Linked DNA regions of Homo sapiens: region 2 is linked to region 1. The links come from fine-mapping of genetic effects on gene expression. Tissue or cell type: whole blood. Region 1 holds a variant in brackets; the other region holds the start of a gene. All regions are shown on one strand. Distances are from middle to middle.

The links. PIP is the estimated chance that this variant, and not a neighbour inherited with it, causes the effect.
Region 2: it holds the start of ZNF415, and the variant in region 1 is fine-mapped to the expression of ZNF415 in whole blood (TOPMed, PIP 0.95).

What each region holds. Positions count from the first base shown.
Region 1 is chr19:52,731,696-52,739,802 of GRCh38, forward strand. It overlaps ZNF611 (zinc finger protein 611), which reads right to left and starts at 3,349. Exons shown (of 6, transcript NM_001161499.2): 1 at 3,306-3,349. LOC124904760 (a long non-coding RNA gene) reads left to right here and starts at 2,336. Exons shown (of 2, transcript XR_007067328.1): 1 at 2,336-2,765; 2 at 3,099-4,009. RefSeq lists enhancers at 3,337-4,322, 3,635-3,764 and a silencer at 3,385-3,454. The variant G/C (reference allele first, on the strand shown) is at 3,466.
Region 2 is chr19:53,128,104-53,136,210 of GRCh38, forward strand. ZNF415 (zinc finger protein 415) reads right to left here and starts at 4,807. Exons shown (of 4, transcript NM_018355.4): 1 at 4,753-4,807. It overlaps ZNF347 (zinc finger protein 347), which reads right to left. Exons shown (of 5, transcript NM_032584.3): 5 at 6,832-8,107.

The DNA of each region.
Region 1 (8,107 bases):
CGTGGTGGCTTACGCCCGTAATCCCAGCACTTTGGGAGGCCGAGGCAGGTGGATCACCTCAGGTCGGGAGTTAGAGACCAGCCTGGATCAACATGAAGAAACCCTGTCTCTACTAAAAACACAAAATTAGCCGAGCGTGGTGGTGCATGCCTGTAATCCCAGCTATTCAGGAGGCTGAGGCAGTAGAATCGCTTGATGCTAGGAAGCCAAGGTTGTGGTGAGCTGAGATCATGCCATCGCACTCCAGCCTTGGCAACAAGAGCAAAATTCCCTCTCAAAAAAAGAAAAAAAAATGGCCGGGCGGGTGGCTCACGCCTGTAATCCCAGCACTTTGGGAGGCTGAGGCGGGCGGATCACGAGGTCAGGAGATTGAGACCATCCTGGCTAACACGGTGAAATCCTGTCTCTACTAATAATACAAAAAATTAGCTGGTAGTGGTGACAGGAGCCTGTACTCCCAGCTACTCCGGAGGCTGAGGCAGGAGAATGGCGTGAACCCGGGAGGCGGAGCTTGCAGTGAGCTGAGATCGTGCCACTGCACTCCAGCCTGGGTGACAGAGCAAAACTCCATCTCAAAAAAGAAAAAAGAAAACAGAATAACTCACAGTATTGAGTTATTCTGAATAACTCACAGTATTGAGTTATTCTGAATAACTCACAGTATTGAGTTATTCTGAATAACTCACAGTATTGAGTTATTCTGAATAACTCACAGTATTGAGTTATTCTGAATAACTCACAGTATTGAGTTATTCAGAATAACTCACAGTATTGAGTTATTCAGAATAACTCACAGTATTGAGTTATTCAGAATAACTCACAGTATTGAGTTATTCAGAATAACTCACAGTATTGAGTTATTCAGAATAACTCACAGTATTGAGTTATTCTGAATAACTCACAGTATTGAGTTATTGAGTTATTCAGAATAACTCAATGTATTGAGGGCTAAGTAGGCCAGACACGGTGGCTCCTCCCTGTAATCCCACCCGTAATCCCAGTAATTTGGGAGGCCAAGGCAGGAGGATCCTTTGAGCCCAGGATTTTGAGACCAGCCTAGGAAACATAGTGAAACTCCGTTTCTACAAAAAAAAAAAAAAATACAAAAACTAGCCGGGCTTGGTGGCTCATGCCTCTGGTCTCAGCTACTCAGAAGGCTGAGGAAGGAGGATGGCTTGAACTTAAGAGGTCGAGGCTGCAGTTAGAGGAGATCACGCCACTGCACACCAGCCTGGGTGATAGAGTCAGACCCTGTCTCAAAATATTAATTAATTAATTAATTAAATGTATTTTGTAACAACAGACAGTGACTATTTTCCCACTTCACTGACCCACGTCCTACCCCATCCTAGGAAAAGGGGAGACAGTGATTCACAACTGAATAAGTGACTGCCCTCTGGCAAATAGGGATTCCAAGTGGAACATAACCTCTGATGCCAAGATTTATAGAATGTACATGTCTTATAGATACGAATTTTAAAATTCTCAATCTCATCTGTGTAATTTAAACAAGTTTTTAGTTATTAGATTATATATACAGAACTCAACATGTCACAACCAATCATATCCAATGAACTCACCCACTCATCTGAACCCAGTCTCTCGCCCCTTTTTTTTTGTTTGGAGACAAGGTCTCGCTCTGACGACCAGGCTGCAGTGTAGTCACATGATCTCAGCTCACTGCAGCCTGGACCTCCTGGGCTCAAGTCATCCTCCCAGCTTGGCCACCAGAGCAGCTGGGAGTACAGGTGCACACCATTATGCCCGGTTATTTACTTACTTTTTTGGCGGGGGGGAGGTCTCACTATGTTGCCCAAGCTGGTCTCGAACTCCTGGACTCAAGCAATCCCCTTGCCTCAGTCTCCTAAAGTGTGGAGACTACAGACTACAGGCGTGAGCCACTGTGTCCAGACCCTCTTTCTTCATTACTGTGCTTCCCTCCCTAATTCTGTACATATCTCTCATTCTCCCCTTCTCTCTCTAGCTCTTGTTTTCTTTTCTTTTTCCCTGGGATTCTGCTCTTCATTTTGTACCCCTCTCCTCTCCTGCTATTCATCCCCTTCTTCCCTTTATTCCTTCTCTTCCACCTCTTCTCCTCCATCCTCACAACTTATTTAACCTCTTATTGCTCCTTCTCCCCAATCTTTCAATCGTCCTCAATCTCCATCTATTTCTGCCTCTTCTCCCATCTCTGCGCCTCCTCTGCTCTCCCTGTTAAATTCCATCTTCCCCGATATACTCCCTTGTCCCCACTCTGTGTCTCCCCAGATCCCAGCTGTCCTCTCTGCTGTGGTTCTCCCTCTGTTCTCCTTGACACAAGCACCACTCTGCTCTGTCTGCCCTGGCTCCAAATCCTTCCCTCTCTCCCTCACTCTGATGAGTCTCCCTCTTTGCTGCCACTCCCCCTACCTTGTGATCCTTCATCTCTCTGTACATCTATCTAGCCTTTCTCTACATTTCTCCGGTTGCTTTTCTCCTCCTGCTTTCTTAGGTTTTTTTTTTTTTTTTTCACTTCTGCCATCTCTTGGCATATCCCTCACCAATCCTCTATTTTGCCATCTGTTATGGGCCTTTCTTATTCTTCTTTTCTCTGCCTCAGGTTTTCTACTGCTCTCTGTCTCCTGATTCCTTTGGCCCACACAATCGCAACACGGTTTGGAGTAAGACGCCTGCATCCCGGAGGAGCGCATTTTCCACGCCCTGGAGCTCCGCAGGCAAGAATACCCCGTGCCGCAGGACAGGCCCCTGGGACCTCCCCAGTGCAGGTTCAATGAAAGCGGTGACTGCGGAGGGGAGACCTGGGGAGCAGCAGGCCCCGGCATGAGGAGGAAGGTGCGGGGCGGGGGGGGGGGGCGCGACGGCGCCTTAGGACCAGGATGGGGTCTGCAGGATCCCAGGACCTGGCAGAGGACTCGGCCTCCCCGGGACTGGGGCTGCGGCGCGGCGCTCCCGGGGCTGAGGAGGGGGAGGCTGGGAGGCGCCCTGGGCAAGAATCCACATCGCGGGTGAAGACTTTAAAAAGCGCGGGGCGCGAGGAGTCAGAACAAGGTTTTCAGCAGGAAAACTACGCAACAGAAAGTGTATACATTGACCTATAGCAGAAAGACCGGGGACGAGACCAGCCTCAGGACGACTTTAAACCCAAAAGGAAGCGACCCTCGGGCTCTCACGGGGATGTCTCAATTTGCTCTGGGCAAAGGAAGACGCCGGAGAATTTCCAGGTCTGTGGGGACCCCACGTCCCAGGGACAGAAGCCCTGGGAACCTAGTTAGCGCAGACTTAATACAACACAGAGCAAAACTCACCGCGGCGATATGACCTACACTCCACCCGATCCGCTTCCGGGTTTGCGTTAATCTGCGCGCGCAGGACAAAAGCCAGGCCTGGGCGGGAAGTGGGAGGTAGGCGGGGCCTGGGCGAGGTAGGGGCGGGGCGCGAGGCGGAGAGACCTTGCCTTTTAGAACC[G/C]GCAGAGGGCAGGGCCGGGGCGGGATCTGCGCGTCTCTCAGCCTCGCTCCCAGCGTCTCTGTTTTCAGGTTTTGGAGGCGAGAGCGCCAGAAAGTCTGAGGCATGATACAAAAGCCCTGTTGAGAGAAGAGAGAGACCCTCTGACATTGTTTTATATTGTTTTATAGTCAGTAAAAACAACAGGAAGTAAAACCAAAGACAGGCAGCCCCGCGCCAGGCCCGAAACCAGGCCTGGATCCGCCTGGCCTAAACCCAGTAGTTAAAAATCAACTTATGATTTAGAAGCTGATGTTAGGCATAGATTCCAGACATTGTATAGAAGAACACGGTGAAACTCCTGCCCTGTTCTCTCTCTCCCTGATCACCGGTGCATGCAGCCCCTGTCACGTATCCCTTGCTTGCTCAATCAGTCACTATCCTTTCATCTGAAATCTTTAGTGTTGTGAGCCCTTAAAAGGGACAGAAATTGTGCACTCGGGGAGCTTGGATTTTAAGGCAGTAGCTTGCCAATGCTCCCAGCTGAATAAAGCCCTTCCTTCTACAACTCGGTGTCTGAGAGGTTTTGTCTGCGACTCGTCCTGCTACACTGTAATTGTCTGGAACAGGGATACAAACTAGAATGTGAAATGCAAAGCCCTGCCTGGGCGGTATGTACCATGTCATGCTGAGGTCCCACAGAACAGATAGATATCCTCTCCCTTTCTATTGTCCATTCACTCCGGAAGGAGACTCCGCCCTGTGCTCAGCTTCAGAGACTTCCCTGAAGCCACCGCCTGGAATGCCGGACGGAGTGCTCAGGCCGAGAAGGAGTGAGGTCACCACCTGCTGCTTAAAGACAGCAGAGGCGCGGGGGCGGGAGCCTGAGGTCCCAGCTACTCAGGAAGCAGCGGCGGGAGGATCCCTGAGCCTCGGGTTCCAAGCCAGCCTGAGCGACAAAATAACGCCCACTGCCGCGGTCTCCCTTTCTTGTCTCTCTCTCTCTCTTTTTTTTTAAAAAAAACTTTCGCAAATAAAATTTTTGATTGTGTGACATAGGGATCCAACATTATTCTTTTCCATGTGGATATCCAGATAGTTGTCCTAGCACATTTATGGAAGAGATCTATTACTTTCTTGTATTATTATTATTATTATTATTATTATTATTATTATTTTTGAGACAGAGTATTTCTCTGTTGCCCAGGCTGGAGTGCAGTGGCGAGATCTCGACTAAATGCATCCTCTGCCTCCTGGGTTCAAGCGATTCTCCTGCCCCAGCCTTGGGAACAGCTGGCATTACAGGCGTGCGCCACCATGCCAGGCTAATTTTTGTATTTTTAGTAGAGACGGGGTTGACCATGTTGACCAGGCCGGTATCGGACTCCTCACTCCAAGTTATTTGCCTGCCTCAGCCTCCTAAAGTGCTGGGGTTACGGCGTGAGCCAACATGCCTGGCTAATTTTTTGTATTTTTAGTAGAGATGGGATTTCATCGAGTTAGCCAGGACGGTCTCTATCTCCTGACCTTGTGATCCGCCCGCGTCGGCCTCCCAAAGTGCTGGGATTACAGGCGTGAGCCACCGCGCCCGGCCAGAAATATTCTTTTTTTTTTTTTTTTTTTTTTTAAACGGAGTCTCACTCTGTCGCCCAGGCTGGAGTGCAGTGGCGCAATCTCGACTCACTGCAAGCTCCGCCTCCCGGGTTCACGCCATTCTCCTGCCTCAGCCTCCGGAGTAGCTGGGACCACAGGCTCCCGCTACCACGCCTGGCTAATTTTTTTGGGTTTTTTTTTTTTTGTATTTTTTTTTAGTAGAGACGGTGTTTCACCATGTTGGCCAGGATGGTCTCGATCTCTAGACCTCGTGATCCACCCGCCTCCGCCTCCCAAACTGCTGAGATTACAGGCGTGAGCCACCGTGCCATGCCGCAGAAATATTCTTTGCTTCGCTTTTTAAATGTTGACAAAATATAACTGAAAACTAAAAAGTCTCCTCCCAAATGAGAAATCATCTCCACGACGATAACAGAGAAAGAAATAAAAACCATTTTATTAATAAATAAACCTTAGACCAGAATGTGATGGGAAATAGAGGCAAACAGCTAAAAGATTGAAAAGAGAGAAAGAAACTTCACTGTTCTATACAACCCATTAAGGACATATTTTCAAGATAAATACTAATCAGTCCTCAAGGAAGAGGACTTGACAACACCCTTGGTCACACATAGTTCATCCTGGCTCTACTTGGTAATGGAGGTGACCATCTGTGTCAGCTAACTAGCGTCATCCTGAGGGAGGGGGAGAAACTCTAACCCATGTCTTTTTGGCAAGTGTGAGTTTTACAACATGGCGACAGGTGCCCTCTCTGGTGAGGCTCCTACCATACGACAGACACTGATGTCAGCAGTAAATAATAAAATTTAAAGTATATGATTAAGTACAGAGTTAATGTGAACACAGAGCTTGAAGAAAGCCACCTGGAAACATCAACTCCAAATGAATGGGATCAGCGTTCCCAAGTAGAGACGTTAAGGTTTCACACACAGGGAAAGACAGAGAAGCTTTAGCAGAATCACCACACTTTCCATTCAAGACCAGTGCACAGGCTGCAGCAACTTGACTGGTGATGATTTGATACACTTCAAGGAAAGTTACTTTATCATTACATAAGAAGGGACAATGCTCTGAGGAGGTCTTATCACTGGGGCTCTGTAGTCTTCCTAATTTTTTTATTGTTATTGTTATTTATTTATTTATTTTGAGATGGAGTCTCGCTCTGTCACCAGGCTGGAGTGCAGTGGTGCAATCTCGGCTCACTGCAACCTCCGACTCCCTGGTTCAAGTAATTCTCGTGGCTCAGCCTCCCGAATAGATGGTACTACAGGCAAGCACCAACATGCCCAGCTGATTTTTGTATTTTTTTTAGGGATGAGATTTCACCATGTTGGCCAGTATAATCTCTATCTCTTGACCTCGTGATCTGCCAGAATCAGTCTCCCAAAGTGCTGGGATGACAGGCGTGACCCACTGTTCACGGCCAGTTTTCCAAATTATTTACAGAAAAACTCCTAGAAGTTGCGCCTGCATTCCTCTGAACTCAGGTTGCATGACCACATTCCTCTCAAGGCTCAGAATTATTTAAAGGTCCATGGCTTTAAATTGGAATCACTTGATATTTGAATTACTTAATTTCCTACTGAGACACAAGTGCTATCTCTGTTGTTTGCCTTTCAGACAGAGCTCCCAAGTCCTTCGGAAATACATTCCTGGGTCATTAAGCTAAAAAGCGGTTTAGTTAGTTTCTAAAAAAATTCCATTTCTGTCCGAGCGCGGTGGCTCACGCCTGTAATCCCAGCACTTTGGGAGGCAGAGGCGGGCGGATCGCCTGAGGTCGTAGTTTGAGGCCAGCCTGACCAACATGGAAAAAACCCTTCTCTATTAAAAATACGAAATTAACTGGGCATGGTGGCACATGCCTGCAATCCCAGCTACTCGGGAAGCTGAGGCAGGAGAATCTCTTGAACCTGGGAGACAGAGGATGCCGCGAGCGGAGATCACGCCATTCCACTCCAGCGTGGGCTACAAGAGCGAAACTCCATCTCAAAAAAAAAAAAATACTGTTTCAGAAGACAGAGAAAATTCATTTACACATTTTCTAAATAAATGTCCTAAGAAAAGAGTCTACAGGAAAGAAAATCTCTTACTTTATTTTCGAAGGAGGAATTATGCCTCTCACTTATTTGCTTGTTTGTTTGAGACAGGGTCCAGCTCTGTCATCCAGGTTAGAGTGTGCTAGTGAGATCAGGGATCAGTGCAGCGTCCAACTCCCTGGCTCAAGTGATGTTTCAATCTCAGTGCCCAAAGCAGCCGAGAACACAGGTGTGCACCACCACACCTGGCTGAGTTTTTTTATTTTTAGTAGAGACGAGGTCTCACTATGTTGCTCAGGCTGATCACACACTCCTGGGCTCAAGCAATCCTCCGGCATTGGCCTCTCAAAGTGCTGGGATGACAGGTGTGACCCACCGCTCGGAGTTCTGGCTTTATTTCCATGAAATAAGAAATTTTCTTCCACCTTCTGTGTATAATAGGCAGTTCTATATGTCACCTTTCTACTTTCATTATCCGCTCAAACAACCCAGGACCTTGCTTGGTTTACTAAGCCATTCAAATTATCAGTCCCCGTTGTAAGCAGCGCCCCACTCCACCCCTTTACCGAGGTACCTGCCCCTGTACCCCAACCTGTCCCAGCCTGAGGGGAGCTTGCCCCGCCTGCAGGACGCGCGACTCCACCTGCTCAAAAAAGGCACTTTGCCTTAAAACCATTTTCAACTTGGGAGAAAAAACGATTCAGCATTCAGTACAAAATGGCCCACTACCAAATGTTATTTTACCTTCGATTGTTTGAAATGTTAACTGAAAACGGGCAGGAAGCCTCCCTGTGATATTAGGGGTAATATGACGGCACATCAGAAACAATCCACCAATCAGAACCCGGGGGATCGAGTGCTGGAGATCAAGAGGATGACAGCAGGCCACATCATGGACCCAGCTGAGGAGAGAGCCCCGACGCATCGCTGCCAGGCCCCGCCCTTAAGAACAACACCCCATTTCAGGCCCCGCCTCCAAGACCAGGGTAAACCTCCGGCCCCCCAGCACCGACCCG
Region 2 (8,107 bases), 400 kb after region 1:
ACACCTCCAAGAATGCTTCTTCACTTTCCCTCATTTTTCTACTTCTCTTCCATGCATGAAGAGCACACTAGGCTGAAAGGCAAAAGGGCCTCTGGACAAAAGCAGGAATGGACACAAACTGCTATCTGCAGGACAGTGGGCCTCAAGTCTAGATTCTAGAAGTTGGCCATGCTGGAAGGAATTGCCCCCAATTTGGGGACACCATGGAATCCAGTTTAAAGGCAGGTGAAGATTGGCTGGACTGAGCTGACGGAGGATGTCCAAGAAAAAGAGAGGCCCCAGATCTCATGAGGGAGGCTGCCATTGTCCCCTTGTCTCTCCACTCACAGTCCCCTGCCAAATTCCCCCGCTGTTTAGGGAGTGCCTCCTTCATGGCCCGTTTAGCTTCTGAACTTCTCGCCACCCTTCCTGAAGGGAATCCAGGACCCCTGACTGTGAGCGCATCACCTGCTGGAAGGCAAAGCCCCTGCCCAGGATGGCCACTGGGCCCCGCTGATGTGTAGAGCGTGGAAGACCCGGGAGCTGGAGTAAGGCGGTGGGGACGCCTCGGCACTGGCTGAGGACACAGGGTCTGCGGGGCTTTTCAGGCCTCAGTGAGGCCTTCTGCTCTTACATAGACTGGAATAAATAGCCACAGGAAGTTTAGACCAATTACAGATGAAATTTCCAGAATATGAGACCATCCTCACTACCCGCCCTGTCCTTTTGGTCTTCCCTGAGGAGTCTTCAGCCCAACCCCAGCCCCAGCATCTGAACCACAACCCCGGAGCAGGTGCTGCAGTCATCCCGTGGCCCAGATGGAGACTGTGTCCTCCAATGGAGGGAGACACAAAACACTCAAAATAATCCACGCAGAAGAGTGTCCGATGTGGTGATGGATGCGGAGACAGTGAAACCTGAATAATGTGATAGAGAGTGACGGGCAGAGAGAATTTCAGATGGGGGTGGGAGGGCACGGGAGACATCTCTCAGTCTAGACCCGAAGGAGGAAAAAGGGACAGGGTCACGATCATTTAGGGACATAGGGTAAAAGCAGGGACAACGACCCGTGACAGGAAGGGTTTTGACATTTGGGAAAAGAGAAAAGCAAATGTGACTGGTGCAGAGGGAGTCATGAGATGAGGGCAAGCTCCCAGGAGGAGGCTGGACACTGGCAGGGGCCCTGGACACAGGGCTGTGGAGCCACAGTGAGGAGTTGGGCTTTTGTCCTGGGGAACACAGGAAGCTGGTGGAGGGTTCCCTGCCAGGGACTGACGTGACCTGCTTTAGATTTCTCTGTGATGTCCTCATACAGAGAAAGGCCCCGAAGATGGTCTCTGTGTCTGAGTCCCTGCTTCACATTCTTGTTTTCATTTTTAGAGGAAGAAATCCAAATAAAAATTTTAATTGCAACTGGCTAGTCCCCCCACATACAACTGCCAAACACAAATGCACACCCAATTTTGCCCCAAATTTCAGGAGTCAGTGTTGCTCACATTGAGGTTTTCTGGTCTAGTCCCTTATCTCTGTTACAGGTGGGCTCACTGAGGCTGAGAGAGGGAGTCATTTCACCAAGTTATCCTGAGAGGTCTGAGTTGAGTGAGAAGGAGGAGATGTGGCTGAATTATGATGTCACGACCTGGAAGGGCCAATGGGCTGTGTTTGCCTTTATCACATCTCCCTTAGAAAATTCCAGGACTGGCCAGGCATGTTGGCTCGTGCCTGTAATCCCAGCACTTCGAGGCTGAAGGAGGGGAGATTACTTGAGGCCAGGAGTTTGAGACCAGCCTGGCCAACATGATGAAAGCTCATCTCTATCAAAAAACACAAAAGTTAGCCGGGTGTGGTGGCCTGTGCCTGTAATCCCAGCTACTCAGGAGGCTGAGGCAGGAGAATCGCTTGAACCCGGGAGGCGGAGGTTGCAGTGAGCCGAGATTGCACCACTGTACTCCAGCCTGGGTGAGAGAGCAAGACTCCAGCTCACAAAAAAAAAAAAAAAGAAAAGAAAAAAAGAAAATTCCCAGACCCTCTTTCACATATCTGAGCAAAAGAAACTTCTTCAAGGTTTTATCACATTGGTTCCAAATGCAGCTCACAGCTTACTATTTTAACAAATTACACAAAAGAAGAAAATTGAATAATAGACTAGTTAAACTAGGTTTCCATGTTAAGGTAAAAACATCATTGACATCTTTATCAGGTACACATTGAAACAATCTAAAATTACCTACTAGTCAACAAATAATGCTTCTATTATATAATAAAGAGCAGAAAGCATGCAGACCTCTATCAAAACTGGACACAATTAATTTCAAAGGGAAAGATTTTGAAATTGTTAAGAAATATCTGATGAATTTTGGAGCTAAAAAAATTGAAAACACATTATATTTAGAAAATGCCATGAGCTGATTATAGGATGCCACCAAAGTTACTTTGGAAATAATTATATACAGAAAAATAGAAACTGAATTAATGAAGATCTATCTCAAGTTGCAAAATGAACTATACATGAGATGAAAGGGAATTAGTAAGAAAAAAAGCAAATCAATTACAAAAAGCAACAACACTTTTTTTGTTTGTTCTTTGTTTTTTTTTCAGACGCAGTCTTGCTCTGTCACCGGATCTCGGCTCTTGGCTCACTGCAACCTCCGCCTCCCGGGTTTACACAATGCTTTGCCTCAGCCTCCTGAGTAGCTGGGATTACAGATGCGTGTCACCATACCTGGCTAAGTTTTGTATTTTTAGTAGAGATGGGGTTTCACCATCTTTGCCAGGCTGGTCTTGAACTACTGACCTTGTGATTCACCCACCTCGGCCTCCCAAAGTGCTGGGATTACAGGCATGAGCCACCATGCCCAGCCTCAACACTTTTAATGTTCCTTTTGAGCAACGTTGTCCAATCCGCAGCCCAGGAAGGCTTTGAATGCAGCCCAACACAAATTCCTAAACTTCCTTAAAACATTTTGAGATTTTCTTGCAACTTTTTTTTTTTTTTTTTTTTTTTTTTTTAGCTCATCAGCTATTGTTAGTGTTAGTGTACTTTATGTGTGGCCCAAGACAATTCTTCTTCCAATGTGGCCCAGGGAAGCCAAAAGATTGGACACCCCTGCTTTAGAGAGACACTATGTAGTGACAGTCTTTCACTTTCTGCCCAGCTTTACTCTCCCACTCCCCCTTCCCCTCCCCCTGCCCCAACGCCAGGGAAGGGGAAGAGGATGACCTGTGGAATTAATGAGTCAAGTCACTTCCCTCTGCCTTAACAGGGATTGCAAGTGGAAGCTAACTTCTGATGCCATAATTATAAAATGCACCAGCCTTAATAGACAGGAGCTTTGCAATTCTCATCATCTGTGCATTTTAAACTTATAAAGACAGAAATCAACAGGTCAAAAGGTAGTCATCACATCCAGTCAGTTCACAACTCACCTGGACCTGGGGTCCCCCTCTTTCCTCATTATGGTGTGTTTCCCTCCCTCGTTCCGTACATCGCTCTCATTCTCACCTTCTTTCTCTAGCTCTTTCCTTCCCCTTTATTTTCTCCCTAGGATTCTGCTCATTTTGAGCCCCTCTCCTCTCCTGCTGCTCCTCCCCGTCTTCCCTCTATTCTTTCTCTTCCACTTGCTCTTTCCATTCTTGCAATGTATTTAATTCCTCTTTCTTCCTAATCTTTTCATTGTCCCAGTCTCCACATATTTCTGGCTCTTTCTTCCCCATTTCAGCACTCCCTGTTAAATTCCCTCTTCCCTGTTACACACCGTTGTCCCCACTCTTTGGCACCCCCAGATCCCAGGCCTCCCCGTGCTGTGGTTCTCCCTCTGCTTCTCCTTGTCATCGGCTGCCCCCTCTTGCTGTCCCGGTACCACACTGCCCTGTCTGCCCTGGCTCCAAATCCCTTCTGCTCTCCCCCACTCTCTGTCTGAGGAGCCTCCTCCTTTGCTGCCCCTCTCCCTACCTGGCTGTCCTTCATCTCTCTGGATACTGTGCTTTTTCTCGAAATGTGTCTAGTTACTTTTCTCTCCCTGCTACTTTCTCGGCTTCTTCTTCCACTCTTACTGTCTCTGAAAATCTCTAACCATCCTCTACTTTGCCATCTGTTTATTGGTTTGCCTCATTCCTTCCTGTCTCAGGTTTTCTACTGCTCTCTCTGTCCCTCGATCCCTTTGGCCCACACATTCACAGGACGGTTTGGGGTAAGACGCCTGCATCCTGGAGGAGCGCATTTTCCACGGGGTGGAGGAGGGCAGGCAAGAACATCGGGTGTCACAGGACAGGCCCTGAGCACCTCCCCAGCGCGGGCTCAGGGGAGGCCTGGGGAGCAGCGGGGCCCGGCACGAGGAGGAGGGAGGTGGGGCGCGACAGCGCCTTCAGACAGGGGTGGGGTCTGCAGGATCCCAGGACCAGGCAGAGGACGCAAGGCTCCCCGGGACTGCGGCTGCAGCTGCGGCGCTGCGCTCCAGGGGCCGACGAGGGCAAGGCTGGGAGGCACCCAGGACGGGAATACACCTCTTGGGTGAAGACTTTAAAAAGCCCGGGGATGGGGGAGGGGGTCAGGAAAAGGTTTTAAGCGGGAGGAAGAAGCAAAAGGCCGGGGACGGGGAGCAGCCTCAAAGCGACTTCAACCCAAAGGGAAGCGACTCCGGACCCACACTGCGAGGCCTGTATTCACCTGGGGTGGAGTGTACGGGGATTTTAAGGGCCGTATCGACCCTGGACATCGGCTGTGGAAATGGGAAACAGGGAGCGCAGGTTTAATCTACACAGAGGGTCACTCACGCTCGACGCCGTCACCTTCACCCAACGCGATCCGTTTCCGGGCCTGTAGGAAACTGCGCATGCGCGGAGAGAAGAGCCCGGGCAGCCTGAAGGAATGGCTGGAGTGGGCGGGGTCTGCGCCGCTTTAAGGTAAAAAAATCAGAGTTGTGTGGGCCACTTATGGTGGAAACCAAAATGTTTTCCACTTACCAAGTTGAAAACGGTTTATGTTAAAACTATTTTGCCTGCAGGTTGGACCCGATCCTGCTAGGGAGTCTCCTGCAGCTTAGCAGTCCGGGAACTGGGATTTCGGTGGGGAATCCAAAACTAGCAGTGATTGGATCCATAAAAGTTACCAAAAAACAAAAATGAAGTGTCTGGAATCACTCCACTGGATTTCAAGACTACCAATATAGGAAAGGTAATAAAAACTGTGTGGTTTTGGGGCAATAAAAGACATATGGATTGATGCAATACAGTAAGAGAGTACAAAAATAGCCTCTACAGGTACTTCCAACTGATTTTTGACAAAGTTACCAAGGGAATTGAATGAAGAATTTTTAAAAACTGGTGAGGGGCTAACTTAATATCCACAGCAGGAAAGAAGTCATCTCTACTCAAACTTCACAACCGTACAGACATTAGTTCAACATTGACCATAGCCTAAATGTAAAATATCAAACCATAAAATGGTATCCTGTAGGAGACTGAAAGAAAAAATTACTCACAATAAAATCGTAAGAATCAAGAGCTTGTTCAAAAATTCTTAGCCATAGCAGCAAAAGCATGATTCATTAAAGAAAAAAAAAATCAACTGGTATTTACCAAATTAAAAACTTTTGGTCTGTGAAAGACCTTCAGACGATGAAAGAAAAGGTATTTGATATGGTTTGGCTCAGTGTCCCCATCAAATCTCATTTTCAAGTATAAACCTCAGGTGTTGAGGGAGGGACCTGGTGGGAGGTGACTGGATCATGGGGGTGGTTTTCCCCAAGCCGTTCTCATGATAGTGAGCTCTCAGGAGATCTCATGGTTTAAAAATCTGTGATAGTTCCTCCTTTGATCGCTCTCTCTCCTGCTGCAAGCAAGACGTGCCTTGCTTCGCCTTTGCCTTCCTCTATGATTGTAAGTTTCCTGAGGGCTCCCTAGCCATGCGGAACTGTGAGTCAATTAAACCTCTTTTGTTTATAAATTACCCAGTCTCAGGTTGTCACAGGAGGGTTTAGGCAGTGTGAAAATGGACTAATACAGTACTGAATAATAGAAAATATTTGCCTACCATATATCTGACATAAAACTGGTATGTGGAATGTATAAAGAATCCTAGAACGACTTAAAAAAAAAGCAAAATAATCAAATTAGAAAATGGATAGAACTATGAAGAGACATTTCACTGAAGCAGATATACTGAGATAAATGGGCACATAAAAAGATTTCCAACATCACCATCCATCAAATCTCAGACCTCAGCATATTCTGCTTTCTCCATGTGAACCCCTGGATGCTGTCAGAGATCATGAGAAACACAGGAGCTTCTACTGAACAGTCCAGTTGATGTGTATTAGCAACCTGTAATTGTTTTTGGAAACGAACAATGGAAACACAGATACAAAAATATTCTCAGCTCAAGAAATATGCACTTTGTCATTATTAGTGATTTTTTTTTTTTTTTGAGACAGAGTCTTGTTCTGTCACCCAGGCTGGAGTGCGGTGGTGTGATCTCAGCTTACTGTAACCTCTACCTCCCAGGCTCAAGCGATTCTCCTGCCTCAGCCTCTTGAGTAGCTTCAACCACACGCACGCGCCACCACACCCAGCTATTTTTTGTATTTTTAGTAGAGATGGGTTTTCACCATGTTGGCCAGGCTGGTCTCCAATTCCTGACCTCAGGAGATCCACCCCCCTTGGCCTCCCAAAGTGCTGGGATTACAGGGGTGAGCTACAGCGCCTGGCCACCACTAGAACTAACACCTCAGGTACTGGATGCCTCCTTCGAAAGATTGGATAATCGTTCTTACAGGATTATGTGGTAATGAGTGTCTCTGTCATTCATTTAGGTAAGATGCATACGCAATAGTGATCTATAAAATATAGACTTAATTGATCTATAAAAATATAGATTTAATACAAAGTTACCACAATCACAATGATATATGAAGATAAACCATTTAAAAATTACAAGAGATACTAACAAAATAGGTATAGATGGTGAGTAAAGGACAAAAATAACTAGCATTGTTACTGTAGCATCATCATTAAAAGCTTTGTCTTTGCAACCAGACAACATGGATTCAAATCTCGATTCTGCCTCTTACTGAAATGTGACAAGATGAGTCTTTTAAAGCAGAATATGCTGAGATCTGAGATTTGATGGATGGTGATGTTGGAAATCTTTTTATGTGCCTATTTATCTCAGTATAACTGCTTCAGTGAAATGTCTCTTCATAGTTCTACCCATTTTCTAAATATATATATATATATATATATATATATATATATATATATAGAGAGAGAGAGAGAGAGAGAGAGAGAGAAAGAGAGAGAGAGAGAGAGAGAGAGATGGAGTCCCGCTCTGTCACTGAGACTGGAGTGCAATGGTGGGAACTCGGCTAACTGCAACATCCGCCTCCCAGGCTCAAGCAATTCTCCTGCCTCAGCCTCCCGAATAGCTGGGATTACAGGCGCCCGCCATCACACCCAGCTAATTTTTGTATTTTTAGTAGAGACGGGGTTTCACCATGTTGATCAGGCTGGTCTCGAATTCCTGACCTCAGGTGATCCCCCCGCCTCGGCCTCCCAAAGTGCTGGGATTACAGGCATGAGCCACTGTGCCCAGCCTAATTTGATTATTTTGCTTATCTGTCCTAAGTTTCCTCACCTCTGAAATGAGAATATCATTAATACTTATTTCAGGAGCTGATGATTCAGTTGTTACACATAAAGCATTAATAACTGTGATTCTTACTCTAAATGTGATTGATATAAAATATATATGCAAAGATAAATCACTTATTAAAGAATATATATCAGTTTTTTAAAATGGAAACAAATCTAAGGGGAGTATATTAAATGGCAGCTGTCATTGCAAAAGTTGCACAAATATCATGTTTTGCTGTAAGATCCTCTGGCTCAGAAAAGAAATACCAGCCACAGTAGGAAGTTGAATTGCCTCCAGGGATTCAATGAGAGAAATTATCTCCTTTGCATAAATGATAATTAATATCTTGGGGACTCTCTTATTAACTGTATTTTCATTTACTTCTCCAGATGCTGGTTAACCTCCACACGCTTGATTTTCAAGCATCTGATCTTTGATAACTTCCATATTAAGAGACTTCATTTCACCATCTAGTATCCCTGTACTTTAATTGAACTA